Linked DNA regions of Homo sapiens: region 2 is linked to region 1. A link means that fine-mapping ties the variant in region 1 to the expression of a gene that starts in the linked region. Tissue or cell type: testis. Region 1 holds a variant in brackets; the other region holds the start of a gene. All regions are shown on one strand. Distances are from middle to middle.

The links. PIP is the estimated chance that this variant, and not a neighbour inherited with it, causes the effect.
Region 2: it holds the start of RHBDD3, and the variant in region 1 is fine-mapped to the expression of RHBDD3 in testis (GTEx, PIP above 0.99).

The regions. Positions count from the first base shown.
Region 1 is chr22:29,349,191-29,357,190 of GRCh38, forward strand. It overlaps AP1B1 (adaptor related protein complex 1 subunit beta 1), which reads right to left. Exons shown (of 23, transcript NM_001127.4): 6 at 7,236-7,426; 7 at 5,460-5,681; 8 at 2,515-2,635; 9 at 1,981-2,076; 10 at 845-960; 11 at 28-193. Among named protein-coding and RNA genes, the nearest start is that of SNORD125, 20 kb to the left of the region's middle. The variant C/T (reference allele first, on the strand shown) is at 3,541.
Region 2 is chr22:29,263,043-29,271,042 of GRCh38, forward strand. RHBDD3 (rhomboid domain containing 3) reads right to left here and starts at 4,939. Exons shown (of 7, transcript NM_012265.3): 1 at 4,706-4,939; 2 at 4,384-4,535; 3 at 2,437-2,626; 4 at 793-1,176. The coding sequence starts at 2,584. EWSR1 (EWS RNA binding protein 1) reads left to right here and starts at 5,226. Exons shown (of 17, transcript NM_005243.4): 1 at 5,226-5,307. The coding sequence starts at 5,295. RefSeq lists enhancers at 4,818-5,689, 5,082-5,141, 5,252-5,311, 6,774-6,823 and a silencer at 5,482-5,571.

The sequences.
Region 1 (8,000 bases):
CACACCCTGGCCAGCTCGCTGGCTCACCTGTGTGCTCTCGTCATGGAAGCCCTCGAGGAAGCTCTCCAGCAGCTCATCTGCGTTGTCGATCCGTTCCGCGTACTCGCCCACAATCCAGATCATGGCAGCCCGGGCCTCAGGCTCATCCAGGGAGTCCAGATTCTCACACAGTGTGGCAATCACACTCTCATACCTGGGAGACCAGGGCACAGTTGGTATGGGAGCCCTCAAGGAGAACGGGAAACCCAGGGAAGCCAGACAGGGGCCAGGAGGGAAGGGGACCTGCCTCCTAAGACCCCAAGGTGGCAGGTAAAGGGGATCTGAGTTTTGTTTTTTTTTTTGAGATGGAGTTTCACTCTGTTGCCCAGGCTGGTGTGCAGTGGTGTGATCTCACCTCACTGCAACCTCCACCTCCCTGGTTCAAGCAATGCCCCTGCCTCAGCCTCCCAAGTAGCTGGGATTACAGGGACATGCCACCACATCCAGCTAATTTTTTTGTATTTTTAGTAGAAACATGGTTTCACTATGTTGGCTAGACTAGTCTTGAACTCCTGATCTCAGGCAATCCACCCGCCTCGGCCTCCCAAAGTGCTGGGATTACAGGCAAGAGCCACCACACCTGGCCTGGGGATCTGAGTTTCATCTGTCACACGTTAGCCCTTATTTTGGCCTGGGGAGTAGAGGAGGGGCAGTGTGGACGAAATAAAAAACAAAGGGTTTCTTTTGAGAATGACGCTTGTGGCCAAGAAGTAAGGAAGAGGAGATTCCTCCTTCCTTTTCTGCCCCGCCATCCCTGTCCCCAGGCAGAGCTAGATGCCCTCTCCCTAGGAGGGCGGGCACGCACTTGTTGGGGTACTTGCGGAAGATGTCCTTGATGACCACGATGGCCTCCTGGACCACATAGTTGACCTTGGTCTGGATGAGGTCGAGCAGCGTGCTCACACAGCGCTCCGCAGATTGCTGCATGGGAAGAGAAGAGTGTGGGCGAGGTCCCCGCACCCCATTTCCAGTAGAGCCTCTGATGTCCACGCCTCGGCCAAGGGCTGCAAATCACTTCTGGCACACCTTCCTCATCACAGTGGGAAAACAGGAGAACCCTCTCCCCAGGTAACAGGAGAGAACCAGTACCAAATCATGGCCCTAGGATGGTGGGGACATGGGGAATGAGACTGAGGAGAAGCCAGAGGAAGAGTTCCTGAGAGCCAGGAGGGTCCTTGGAGCTCCTCTAAGTCAGGACCTGAGGGCAAGGTGACTACGCTGCAGTCCAACCCCACCTCTCTTTTTACTTGTTTCAGAAAGGGGGCTCCTATGTCCAAAAACACTCACAGAACCTCTGACTGCTTCTGCCTTTACTTCCACACACTGCTCTCACGGCCTGCTCTGAAGGAGATTTCTCAGGACGGCATCATAGGCTCCAGGGTGAGCACGCCTCAAGGGGATAGGTCGGGGGCGACCACCTATCCTAGGACACTGTAGCCACCAGTGGACCCATTTAAGGAGAATCTGGCTTAGTGGTCGAGGAACATCTCCACAGACAGAGAAAGGACGGGGATAAAATGCCAGGACACAGGAGTCTAGAGTGGCCCTGGGACGCTGGGACACAGAGGCACGTGGGCAGCTGAATGATGACAATATTTGCCAAGAAGTGTTCAACAGGCAGGGCCCTTACCCCAGAGCTCTGTGAAGTGAATGCTAAGTCCATTAACTTGTGGCTGCCCCAGCATCTTAACAAATGCTGCAGGAGAACCATGATTATGATGGGTTAATTTGATCGGCAGCAACTCGAAGGCCTAAAGGATACTATAGAGTGAGAAGGAACCCCACCAGATCTGCACAATGCTTGCCATGGGGGCTCCAGTGATGAGCCTCAGGCCTTCCCAGACCACAAGCAAGCTGGCAGATTCTGCTTGAATCAGACTGGTTTCCCGGTTTCAGCCCCCTTTTCCTTCTCCAGCCAAGGACAGAGTCCCAGAGCCTCACCTCCACCTTGATGGCGCAGCGGCCAATAGCACGCACAGCCTTCCGTACAAAGTCCACATCCACTTCTGTTGCGTACTCTTTCAGCTCTGCCAACACCTGTGGCCCAAACAGAAAAGATGGGGCTGGGGCACCTGATGGGGCAATCTGCTGGAACACTCCTGGGCAGTGAATATACACAGACTCCCTAGGAGAATGGGATTCTGCCTCCTGCTCCAGGTAGAAGGCCCAAGGGAGAGAGCTGGCAGGTGCCTGAAAAGGAAAGAAGGCCTGGACAACCTTGTTTGGGGTTGATTTAGCTAACATATCCAACACCACGTTGTAAGGGATGACAGGTGATAACATGGAGAAACATTCTTTAGTAATAAAAACATCAGTTCTTTTACTTGCTTACGAAGCCCCATGTCCCATGCTAAACACTCTTCATGAGATAAACCGTTAATGGTGAGACTGGTCACCTGGGCCAGAGCCTACAGTCTGGTGGTGGTGGAATGGTCCCACACTGAGCCCGTGTCCTGACCATCACACGCAGCTGACCTGGGCGATGTTGGCCTGAGAGGCCAGGCGGATCATGATGTCCAGCTTCTCCAGCTTCACGTAGATAGGGTCGTTGTACTTCACGAAGAACACCTTCATCTCATGCTTCAGGATCTCAGGCCTGGTGGTGGGGCAGGATGCCCGGAGAGCAAAAAACAAGGCTTAAGCCCTGTGAGAAAATGCCCTCCACATTTGCTGGGACATTTCTGGGGTCTGAGGTGGAGCCTGATGTCTGTGAAGGCAGAGTCACTGCCATGGCTGCAAGCTCCTGGGTAGAGGGCCCAGCAACCGGCCTGAGCAAGGCTGTGACTGCTCCTGTGTGCCTGAGCACGTCGCCGGAAGGGAGACGGAGGGCAGTGAGAGACGGCTCACTCACTCTCCAGAGGCAGCAGGCCCCATGGGACGGGCTTGGGAATCAGACATATCTCAGTCCCAGTCCCAGCCTGTGACCTCAGGCCTGTTTCCTCACCCATGAAATGGGAATGACGCTGTACAGAAACATGTTACTACTGCAGGTCTGGGACTGCTAGCCTCAGAAGGCCTGGCACGTGGCAACTTGGATTTTGAAGTGTTCTCACTGTTCCCTAAATGATAAAGGTATTTAACTGTACCTAGACCATTTGTACAAAGAATACAGTTTATGCTGAACACATGCTTCCCTACTGGGAATATGGAATTTGTGTAGGTGCCCCCAATAACAAACTTGGGTGCCGAAGTCTCAAATAGGCTTTCCTGGGCAGAAACATTACATACATGTTGCTGCATTTTGTTGGGGGAGGAGTGTGCTCTGTATGACTCCCCATGGGAAGGAGGAGGTACAAGGAAGCCTCTCATGGAACCCTCCAGACTCCACCTGTGTCCTTCTCCCCTATGACCCAGCCGGGCAGCCCTGCTCTGCTGCTGATAGATCTTTGCTGTGGGTATAGCTATATGCTGAGTCCTGGCTGGGCACAGCAGCTCATGCCTGTCATCCCAACACTTTGGGAGGCTGGGGCAGGAGGATTGCTTGAGTCCAGGAGTTCAAGA[C/T]GAGCCTCGGCAACAGAGTGAGACCCTGTCTCAAAAAATATATATATTTAAAAAATATATGCTGAGTCCTGTGAGTACTGCTAGTGAAACCTGAGCATGAGGGTGGTCTTGGGACCCCAACATGGACACCGACCTAATCGGCCTGCTGTGAGAGTGAGACGAGAAGCATCCAGCATGATCGATGCCTGCCTCAGAGAAGGCACCGCTAGGCAGGAGCTGTCACTAGCTGAGCCCTTTCACATGTGTCATTGTTCCTCCCTCAAAGGCAACATCCTTCTGCCTTCCGCGAGTATCACCCACCACATTTTTCCTGAACAAGGAAACTTCAGAGAGGGTGAGAGGCTGGTACTAGGTCACATGGCTAATGTCAGTAAAGACGAGAGTGGGGCGAGAATCCTCTGCCTCTGACTCCTACTCCTATGCCCTTCCAGAACAGAGAGGAGGAAGGAAAAGATACGAGGACAGATGGTGAGGAAGGGAGAAGACAGGACAGAGAGAAAGGAGAAAACTGGGTACTCTGTGCTGCTGTGCACACTGCGGGGAGGTCCTGGCCAAGCAAGGAGCCTTTGTCGTGCCCCATGGGAGAGGCAAGACCCCGAGCTGGGTAGCAGGAAGATATTTCTGCGATTAGGACTTGGCAAAAGCTGCCCAGCCACATCTCAGGACCAGGGCAGGGCATGTCTCAGTGACGTGGACAAATTCTTAAGAGATTTACTATGTTAAATATAGCACAGGGAATCCTGCACGCTGATCTGCTCTACTAGTCACTACGCCGCATTAAATCCGTGACCCAAGGGCACTGGCGTATAAAGACCCACACTGCAACCAGGAAGCCCTAGTTTCATCCCTTGGTTTAGGAACTCAGAAGGCTTTCCCATATTTACCTCCCTAATAACCCAATTCGACCAATATCTCTGGGTCCCCCGGGAGAGTACTAAGACCCAGACTGAAGCTACAACCAGGAGGATGTGCTGTCTTCCAAGAGAAAATGACTAATGAGGCCCCAGTTCTCTGTGTAGCCCCACTCCCAGCCACAGGGCCTGCTGTAACATACGAATGATCAATGGTTGCTACTGTCAAGTCCCCACGAATGATCAATGGTTGCTACTGTCAAGTCCCCACTGCTGACTGAGCCATTTGACCAAAAGCTGTGAGGAGAACTCAAGGTCAATCCCCCTCCCCAGAGCTGCAGGGCTCTGCCACTCAGAGCCACTTCAGAGGAAGAAGGGGATCATGCCATGAACCCCTCCGATCCAGCACTGCTCAATGGTTTTTCTGCTCTCGCCTACCCCCCACTACCATACCACGTGCCCTGGGAGCAGCAGCTCACTGCTCAGCCATTCTCATGGGAGGGAAGTGGGCGGCACAGCATTTGGAGTGAGTCCGATGTACCTCTCCCCCAGACCTCAAGGTTCCAACCTCAGAGAGTTTGACTAGAGCTACGGACTCTGTCCCCCGAAGAAATGTACACAGATACACAAAATCTGACAGCCCATTTCAGGACAGCTCGTGGACTATGAAGACAATATCTAGTTTAATCACCAAGCTAGTCTTTACATAGCCTGCTTCCTAGTTAGGTTAAGCCAGGGCTTCTCAACCTCAGCACTGCTGACATTTCGGGCTGGACAGTTACTGTGAGGGGCTATTCTGTGCACTGTAGGATGCTGACCAGCACTCCTAGCCTCTGCCCACTAGAAGCCGGTAGCATGCCCCCCTCAGCTGTGAAAACCAAAGTATCTCCAGACACCACCAAATATCCCTCAGGGGGGCAAAGCTGCCACTTTGGTTAAGCTATTCTGGGTTAAGCTATTTGAGACTTCCTGCATGGTGACAGGTCAGTTTCCTTTGAGAGCCCCCATTCCCAGCAGAAGAGGCTCCCCGAGGGGTACGCATGGACGTGCGTGTGGTGACCTCAGTACCTTTTCTGCACGATGAGATTGATGTTGCGCAGGGCCACATACTGCAGCTCTGGCTCGGCTGACAGCAGTGTGACCAGGGGTGGGGCCAGCTTCTTGAGCAGTGTGCCGTAGTAGTCCAAGTCCTTAGACAACATCTCCATGAACTTCATCAGCACCTTCACAGCAGAGAGCACCACAGCGGAGTTGGCATGGGAGAGCCTGGGGGTGACCCGCTCACAGATGCTGGGGTCCGTCCATTCCAACGGGGCAAACAGGAAAGACAAGGGGAAACATTCTGTTTTTAGTTACCAAAATAGCATGTCCAGGCCAGGCGTGATAGTTCACGCCTGTAATCCCAGCACTTTGGGAGGCCGAGGTGGGTGGATCACTTGAGGTCAGGAGTTTGAGACAAGCCTGGCCAACATGGTAAAACTTTGTCTCTACCAAAAAATATAAAAATTAGCTGGGCATGGTGGTAAGCACCTGTAGTCCCAGGTACTCAGGAGGCTGAGACATGAGAATCGCTTGAACCCAGGAGGTGGAGGTTACAGTGAGCCGAGATCGCGCCATTGCACTCCAGCCTGGGCAACAGAGTGAGACCCTGTCTCGAAAAAAAAAAAAATAGCATGTTCAGCCTGGGCAAAATCATGAGACCCTTCTCTACTAAAAATAATTTTACACATTAGCTGAGTATGGTGGTGCATGCCTGTAGTCCCAGCTACTTGGGAGGCTGACGCAGGAGGACTGCTTTGAGCCCAGGAGTTTGAGGCTGCAGTGAGCTGAGACTGTGACACTGCACTCTGGCCTGGGCAACAGAGCGAGACCCTGTCATAAACAAACAAACAAACAAACATGTTTTTTGTAGGAGAAAGATCTAAATCTTGGTTCTGCTGCTTGATAACCCCTAGCAGGTTCAAATCACTCTGAGCCTCAGTTTCTTCATTTATAGAATCAAGATGATGATGCCTACTTCACAGGGTTGCTAGGGGCTTAACTGACACAACGCATGTAAAGAACAAGGCTGGGTGAGGCTGAGATGGGTGGATTGCTTGATCCCAGGAGTTTGAGACCAGTCTGGGCAACATGGAGAAAACCTGTCTCTATACAAAATATAAAAATTAGCTGCTCATGTTGGCATGCAGATGTCTGTAGTCCCAGCTACCTGGGAGAATTGATTGAGCCCTGCAGGTTGGGGCTGCAGCTCCAGCCTGCAGAACAGAGACCCTGCCAAAAAAAAAAAAAAAAAGAACAAGCACAGTACTGGCATGTAGTACATACTGTATAGATGGCAACTCCTCACTTCCTCCGACTTGGAGGGTATCTTGTTGGTTAAGACCATGAGTCAGGTGAGCCCCAGCCAGGGGACCTGCACTATTCCCTCCACCTCTCTAAGCTGGAGCTCCCTCATCTGGAAAGTGGGGGATGATGATAAAAGTTGCATTAAAGACTCTAAAGTGTGGAAAGCACCCGGCAGAGCCCCAGACACCCAGTGAGAATTCAATGAGCAGTGGCTCTGGCGCTACCCACCTATTGAACTCAAAAGAGGTGCCCTGGGCTTCTGCCAGCTCCAAGGCCAGGCCATGCGTATGCCCATAGCTGCCCAAGGCAACTCTCCTGTCTACCTGGCTCTGGAGAGGTGGGAAGCAGGCAGGCCTCCCTTTAGGTGTGTCTGAGGGTGGGTTATGGGGCAAAGCACTAGAAAGGGGCCCACTAAGGCCCAAGGCCCAGTGCCTGGTTGGAGCCCCTGAGGACCAGGGTCCTCAAGCTGGGCTGGCAAGCAACGGGCAGCCCGCTCACCTCTGGGCCTCGCGGTCGTCCTTGGGCATATAGTTGGCGAGGCAGTCCAGGATGAAGATCTGGCCCCACTCGGTGCACTCATTGAGGGCTGTCAGCAGCTTGTTGATGGACTGTGGGTTCAGATCGAGCAGGTTGCTGCTGGGGTGAGACTCGGCAATTTCTGAGAGCGCTGCCACTGCATTGGCCACCACCTGGTTGAGAGGGTGGGAGGGGCAGAGGCTGGGGGTGCTGCTCACAGGCCAGGGGGCAGTGCATTAATGATGCTGGCTGGTCAGAGGTCAAATATCCTGAAAGGAATATGACCCAATGGGCAGGGTCTGGAGCTGCAACGAGACCCACTCCAAGCACTCACCCTGCTGACTCCTCTGCAAACTGGAACAAAACAAGTGTGCCTGCCATTTAGAAAAACAAGAAAGACCTAGCTCCAAGGGCTTAGCCACAGAAAGCATTCTCAGCTTCCTAACACAGCAGCGCCTGTCTACCAGCAACAGCACCTCACTTCAATGCTTGTCAGCTGTGCTTCTCAGAGCTAGGGGATTCCTGCAGAGCTCCTCGAGGCTACTGGGAGTGGATGGGGGCTTGCCAGGTGAAGCTCCAGGCCCTCAATCCATTTCCACTAGGAAGGTGTTTTTTTTTGTTTTTTGTTTTTTTTTTTTGAGATGGAGTTGTGCTCTGTCGCCCAGGTTGCAGTGCAGTGGTGTGATCTCAGCTCACTGCAACCTCCACCTCTTGGGTTCAAGTGATTCTCATGCCTCAGCCTCCCGA
Region 2 (8,000 bases), 86 kb before region 1:
TTTTTGTTTTTTGGGGTTTGAGACCGGGGTCTTGCCCTGTCGCCCAGGCTGGAGTGCAGTGGCATGTTCTCGGCTCATTGCAGCCTCTGCCTCACAGGTTCAAGTGATTCTCCTGCCTCAGTCTCCTAAGTAGCTGGGATTACAGGTGCACGCCACCACGCCCAGCTAATTTTTGTATTTTTAGTAGAGATGGGGTTTTACCATGTTGGCCAGGCTAGTCTCGAACTCCTGACCTCGTGATCCGCCCACCTTGGCCTCCCAAAGTGTTGGGATTACAGGCATGAGCCATCGCGCCTGGCCTAATTTTTTTATTTTTAGTACAGATGGGGTTTCACCATGTTGGCCAGGCTGGTCTTGAACTCCAGACCTCAAGTGATCTGCCCGCCTGGCCTCCCAAAGTGCTGGGGTTACAGGCGTGAGCCACTGCGCCCGGTCAGGCTTTTAATTTTTTTAATTTTTAATTTTTGCTCAGGGTGGTTTGGCTATTCTGGGCCTTTTGTGGTTCCATATAAATTTTAGGGTTATTGTTTCTATTTCTGCGAAGAATGGCATTGATATTACAGGGAGCCCACGTAGCCCTTTACATTGTAATTGGCACCTCCACCAGGCCATAAGACCCCAGGTCCCAGCCCAGAGCATGTCCCAGAGGAAGACTCAGAGAAGCTCCTGGAATGTGTGTGCACGGCTCCTTGGTATTGCTTGGGCCTTCACCCCTTTGTGCCACTTCCTTCCCAGGCACCCACCCACAGAACCCACACATCCCCACGGGCCCTGGGCTCAGGCAAAGGATACAGGCCAGGCCGGCAAGGAGGCCGCAAAGGAGCTGCAGGAAGGGTGGCTCAGAGCTGAGCAGTGGGGTCAGGGCAAGCAGCAGCCACGGCGACAGCCACGGTGGCAGTGCCCCACGGGGCCGTCTAGGGCGGTGTCCCTCCCCAGCCAGCATGGCCAGGTGGACAGGCATGTATCCACAGCTGCCGGCTGCACTGGACAGCCCAAGGCCTGCCAGCAGCACTGCCAGCAGCCCAGAAGCCAGGGCGAGCAGGGCTGAGGCATGCAGGAATCTCAGCGTGCCCAGGTGGCACTCCTGCTGCCAGCCCACAGTGGGCAGGAGCAGCAGGCTCAGGAGCAGGCCTGGCAGGGCCGTGTGGCCCAGGGCATGGGTCAGCAGCCGGTGCACTGGGAGAGAGAAGGGGCTTATGTGCCAGGTTAGTGGCCCCAACATCCAAGGCTGTCCCAGGTGTGCCAGGTTGAAGGTTACGCTACACCAGGGCCACCTGCTGAGCCCACCTCCCCTCCCCAGGAGCCAGTCTTCCCACAGCCAGCACTTAATCATTGGTGGAAGGGACCAAGGACTTCCAAACACTGTGGCTACGCCTCTGTGGTATTAAACAGAATACACTGGACGTGCCACTCAGTCTTTTCACTGACAACCCGCTACAGAGCACTCACTATGTCCCAGACACCATGAAGGTACTCTGCTTCTGTATTTACTAAATCATACCTGGCTGAGAGCATGAAATGGCCTGCTTCAATCCTGGAGCTACCCCATTCCCTCAAGCTGTGTGACCCTGGTCAAATCACTTAACCTCTCTGAGCATCATTGGGGGTCCTCAAATACAAATTGGAGGAGTTATTATTGGGAAACAGGTGCTCAGCTGAGGTCACTCCTCAAAACCCCAACACCTCCTCCTCCCATCCTGATGCTTAGTTGAAAGTCTTAGCTGTTTTTTTGTTTTGTTTTGTTTTGTTTTTTGAGATGGAGTCTCACTCTGTCACCCAGGCTGGAGTGCAGTGGCGCGATCTTGGCTCACTGCAAGCTCCGCCTCCCAGGTTCGCGCCATTCTCCTGCCTCAGCCTCTCGAGTAGCTGGGACTACAGGCACCCGCCACTACGCCCAGCTAATCTTTTTGTATTTTTAGTAGAGACGGGGTTTCACCGTGTTAGCCAGGATGGTCTCAATCTCCTGACCTCGTGATCCGCCCGCCTCGGCCTCCCAAAGTGCTGGGATTACAGGAGTGAGCCACTGCGCCCGGCCAATTTTTGTATTTTTAGTAGAGACAGGGTTTAACCATGTTGGCCAGGCTGGTCTCGAACTCCTGACCTCAAGTGATCCACCTGCCTCAGCTTCCCAAAGTGCTGGGATTACAGGCGTCAGCCACCTGGCCTTAGTTCTTATTTCAAGGAAAAGCTGCTAGAAAGGGAAACCATGAGAAAAGCACTCCTACCCATAGGTTCCAGCCCACCCTAGGGAGTCCTCTGCCTCCCTTCTTGGCTGTGGATGTGCTGGGCATGCTCCTGTCTAAGGCCATGCTTTCCCGGGACACTGGGCCCCATCCCTGTTTGACCCCTGGAGGCCTTGTGCTGCTCCTGCCAAGTGGGCCCAGGCCCTACAGCAAGTCTCCTGCTTCCTCCAAGGTCCACGTGGCTGGCCCTCACCCTGCCAGGGGTCCAGCAACAGCTCCGGGGCCAGGACCAGGCCGGGGCCGGCCCCCACCAGCCACAGGGTGCTCATCAGCAGCATCAGGACTGAGGAGGCCAGAGGCAGTGCTGGGGACAGTTGGCCATGGGGGCCCCTGGCATGCATCGCTTGGTTGAGGACGGTCAAGGGTGGTCCTGGGGCTGTGTGCTGGGGATAAAAGAAAACAATAACAAGTTATTACTGGAGCTTTTATCTCACCAATACCCTCTCAAGCACCTTATCAACAGCCCTATTTTACAGAGGTGGAAACAGGCTGGAGACGCAGGCCCAGCAGCTTGGCCTTAGTGGAGCTCAGACCCTAACCCATGCGCTCATAAGCCATCTTACCATTCCACTCACCTCTGTTTAAGGACTGGCAGGGGACAGGCATAGAGACTTCTGAGTCCTGATAGGCCCTGAACTCCCAAAAAGAGGGGTTCAGGCCCTCACCCCCCAGGGCGAATTCAGGGCCATCTCTAGCCCTCTTCTGTCCTCCCCCTTCCCTCAGACTACTACCTCCCTCCTTCCTCCCCTCCCCTGTTCCCAGCCTTAATGCTCCAGATGGTTTCAGTTGCCCTTGACCCTGGGGTGGGGCCAGACAATGGGCAAGCCGACAGGGTAAGGGGTAGGGCAGATGGGCAGAAGTCCCACATCTTGAGCCATACTCAGAGACCTGCGACTGAGACATCCCCTTTGAGGGTGAACCCATCCACTGTAAGCCTCCTCCTGCTTCCTTACTGGCACAGCCCCTCTGGCCCTGGCTCCCCTTTCCACAGGAAGGGTACAGTATGCGCTCCACCTCTTTCTGCTCTGTGTCCTGAGGCAAGTTTCCAACCTCATCTTTTTACAGATGAGCCTCATTTTACAGATGAGCCTCTCCTTTCTCATCTGTAAAATGGAAATTCATAAATTCTTTTCCTCAGAGTATGATGAAATAAAAAGGAATAGGCTAAGGCAGGCCCTGGCCCACAACTCTTCCTCCATAAACCATAGCAATCCGCACTAATCATGGCAGGCGTCTGTAGCCACCAACTGGCCCATCGAGAAGGCCTCAATATGGAGGTGGCTGCTCCAGCCTAGCTGGTCCCAGCTTTGGCCCTCAAACATGGCCTTTCCCTGCCCACCAAAGCAAGGCCTTCTCCCCCGTGCTGTTCTCTTGCATCCAGCCTGTCCTCCAGGGCCTGTAGGTCTTCACCCCTGGTCAGGCCTCTCGGTCCCAGGACTCCCACTGAGCTGATTCAGGGCAGGAAGCAGGATCCCAGAGAGACAAGAAGGCTGCCTAATTTGCTCCCCTGCCAAGCGCCTTCTCCACATCTACCAGTTTCCTGCAGGAAAAATGTGGAAAGCTCCTCTGCCTGCATTGTCCTTCCCTCCATTTTGCCAGCAGGCAAACTCCTATTTCACCCTTGGAAGCCCAGCTCAAATATCCCTTCCCCTCCTCTGGCCCCCTAACATCATGGATCTTATCCTTAGGAGCACAGCTTGGCCAGTCTGTCTCCCTAGGCAGGTGGTCTGAGCTCATGGCTCCTCTGATCCAACCCCACATTCCCCAGGGTATTCACAGCACACAGCCAGTGCTTTATATATGTTCACTGAAAAAAGGACACTAGCTTGGCTCCTGGTCCTGCCGAGGGATTTGAAGGTGAACCCTGCCCTTCGCGGACCCGGGCATCCACCTAGGGGGCTGGGGCTAGAGGTCCAGGAAGGTGGGCAGGGTCAGCCTTGCCTGGAGGCAGGGTTTGGGGCCAAGGCACCCACCGTAAACCTCCTCCTGCATCGACACCTCACAACCATTCCCCAGCTCTGGGCACCTTAGCAAGGGTGAAGGGCTTACCCGTGGACACTCGGAACTGGGACTTGAGCCCCCTGGACCTCACTTTCTTCAATCTATGAAACGGGGCAGTGCACCACCAGGCCCTGCCTACCTTACTGGGAAGCCGGGAGGGCAGAATGGAAAGACAAGGACGGAGATTCTTCCGGTGGCGGATAGAGTAGGGGGTCCCAGGATCTGTCTGGTTCGAACTCAGCTGGTGACTTTGCAGAGATACTCAATTTCCTTGGGCCTCAGTTTCCCCTTCTGTAGAAACAAGGATATCGGATGAGGGATGATTAAAGGGCCTGCTCCACCTCGACCGTTACCGGGGATAGGGTCTCGGGGCCAGGCACGGCGTTCGAGGCCTCCCACCCAGCCGACCGGCCTTGGGGACCCTTCCCCGCTGGCCCGGGCCACGCGTCCCGGGTACTCACTGCAGAGCGCGCCCGGCAACCCCGAAAGGCCGGTCGGGGACCCCGGCTGGGAGTCAGGACTCTAGCTCCCGGGCGCGACCCGAGAACCCTGAATCCATTCCGCGCACACCCGGCCGCGTGACCCCTGCCGACCGGCTGGCGCGCCACCCATTCCCCGCGGCCCGCGGATTAGTCAGCAGTTGTTCTAGTCCGGGTCCCTTCCCCCAGCCCTCCCGCCGATCTCCGTCTCCCTGCAGGGCCGACTCTTCAGCGACCGTCCCTAGAGCCAGCGGACGGAACCATTCCAAACAGCCTAGTCTCGTGCTGAGAGCCTCTCCGGTTTCACGCTGAGACCCGCTCACCCCCGCTCTGGCCCCTTAGATGCTATTTTGGCCCGAGTGTCACGTCGGGCGCTCTTTAGAGAGGACTGGGACAAGAGTTGCGGACGCGAAGAACGAGTAAGCGGTGGTTCATCCCTCCTGACCCCACCCCCGTGGCCTGGCCCGATGGTCGCGCCCGGGGTTGCGAGATTTGCGCCTGCGCAGTGCGGCGCCTAGAGGGAAAGCGAGAGGGAGACGGACGTTGAGAGAACGAGGAGGAAGGAGAGAAAATGGCGTCCACGGGTGAGTATGGTGGAACTGCGGTCGCGCCGGCGGTAGCCGGAACGCCCAAACTGGGGGTCGTTCGTCTCTGGGCTTGGCTGGGAAGACTGAGTGGAGTTGCCGAGAGGGGGTTGAGGCACCCGCCGCGGCCCGACGAGCTCGGGGATCCGCATTCCTCTCCCCTCCCCCAACCGGGCGGGCCGGTTCTGGAATCTTCCGGCGCCCGTGGCGCGCGGGGGGCTTGCTGCGGCGGGGGCGCGCGGGGCCCGCCTTGGCCTCCATTGTGTGGCGGTCCTCGCGCCCTGAGCTCCGGGCCTCCCGCCACGTGGGCGGGGCCTGCGGCCTTCGAGGCCCTGCGTGAAGGGGAGGATTTGGCCAGGCCTCAAGCCGGTCACTATGAAACCGCCGGGGGGCCCGCAGGCTGCTGTCCCTGTGAGGCCTCCCTCCCCGTTTTCAGGGTTTCCTGAGAAACCAGGGGAAAAAGCAAATAAAGATACCGTGGATTTGTGGGCCGAGGGGTGCCGGCCTATGAGCGGGAGCCCCGTCATCCTTAAGACCCAGTCGGCTGGGGCGTCTGGCGCTGCCGAGCTGCCCCCTCTGTGGCTTCCAGCCCCAAGCCGAACTTCTGCTCGCCTGGGCTTTAGACAGAATGTGCTTCCCTCCTCCAGGGCCCCCAGTTTGCCGCTTTCTTGGGCTTCTCCATTTTTATCGTTATTAATCCACGTCCTCCCCTCCCCCAAAACCAATTAAGTGGCTTCCCAGGGCCCTTTTTCTGCAAACGCCGAGGGACATCCGTTGTATAATAAGGCCAGCCTGGGTCGAGAGACGAGAAACGCTACCAGAAAGATATTTCTGGTCTCTCTGACCTAGGAGGAACAAAAGGCCGAGCCTTCATTTGAATTATGTTTCAGCAGTGGCCTCGCACGTTTATTCGCCTGCGTTAGGCCGGCAGGCCTGTTGATTTCGTAGGTCGACAGAGGAGAGGGGAAAAAAGGCCAGTAGAAGCAATCTTAAAGGCACTTGCAAGCAAGCCCCGGTTGGGAACTCCAAAATGGGAGTAGAGTGGTCCTTGATGGAAGGAGCGTTTAAGAGTGTCGCCTAGCCATCACCTGCAGTTCGCAATCTGTGGGTACACTAACCCGCGAAAATTGGCAGGGTGGAGCATTTTTGCCCCGGGGGTATTCTCAGGCCACCTGGTTCCAGGCCTTAGAGACAGTGGGAGAAGATGAGAAGGAAGACAGGAAAAGTTCTGGGCACTCCAGAGTTTTTGGAGTCCAGAATCCAGCAACTTAAGGACAGTTTAAGAATTCTCCCCATCTGTGGTCAATAAACAGGTAAGTGTTGGCTGTTCGTGCCGGGATACCAAAGAGTGGATACCAAAGAGTGCCGGTAGAAGAGAGGACTGAAATACCACAGCTAACCTCCCGGTGGGAAGTGGTTTCCTAGGTGCCCTATCCACCCTCTTCTGCTCTGCAAAAGCCTGAAAAGGCAAAACGTGTGCGTTGACATTTTTGCGTGGCTGGACGTGCCTTTTTTCAGTCAACTTTGTTCAAACCTTGTTCACCAGTAACTACCATGTGCTGTACTGTATTAGAATTACAGTTGTGGTTTCTGTTGACACAAAGTAAACACATTAGGCCTGGCTGGGGGGGCCTTCAGAGAGTCACATAAGTAATCTGGTCCTTAGTTTCCTTTCCTGTAAAATACAGAAGTTAGGCTAGACCTCTTAAGCTTTTGAGCCCTTCTGACCTTCCAGCATAAGCATTCCACAAATTTGTCCTATGCTGACTTCAGCTCAGGTACTGTGAAGCTCAACTCAGGTAGTGTGAAGCAGCTTCCATAGTGACTGCTCTAAAGTGTTAAACCGTTGCCTTGGGTTAATAATAGAAGTTTTCTCTCCTCGTATGTTATCTCATGTAGAAAAGTACGTAAAGCATATATATCCAGTGCAACAAAGAATTGGAATGCAGACTCGCAGCAATCTAGAACCCCCAGCGCTCAATCACAGTGAAGTGATTTTTAGTGAAGTCAGTGGCTCACTTTTGGGGGTTAAAAACGAACACGGTTGCTGAATAATCTGACCAGTTTGTAATTGTATTAGGTTGGTGCAAAAGTAATTACGTTTGCATCAACCTAATAGCTTGCTTGAGGGCCTGTGATGTTTGTGTGCTCTAGGAAGATAAATGTAAGTTCATGAAACAAATTTGCTACCTTCTATAGCCCACCAGTTAGTATAGGGCCGAATCCTGTGGTTTCTCACTGATAAGAGGTCATTGGTTGTTCCATATCAGCTTTGCCAGTTTGATGTTTTACATAACTGCTCTTGCGTAAAAGTCGTCTTGCAAACGTTGAACTTACATGACAGTGATTTACAATCACTTCTCAAGCAAAGACCTCAACAAAACGTGGGTTAAAATATTTGATGTTAAATGATTCATTGCTGTGTTTATTTTGTAGATGCCACATGGAAAAAATGATCTGCATTTAGTTTTAATGTCAGAGAGAGTATGACTTGTAGTGCTATTGAAAATGCCTTTAAGATTGTCATGAACAGATTATTTTTTTCATTATAGGTTAGCCTTTGGGCAGTTGATTTGTTCCTCTTGGTGATTCAGGGTTTTGAGTTAAGAGTGTGTACAAAGGAAAGAAAGTAGTCCAGTAAAGTACAGAGAGGTAGGCAGATAAGCCAACGTGAAGAGATGGATTCAGCAAAG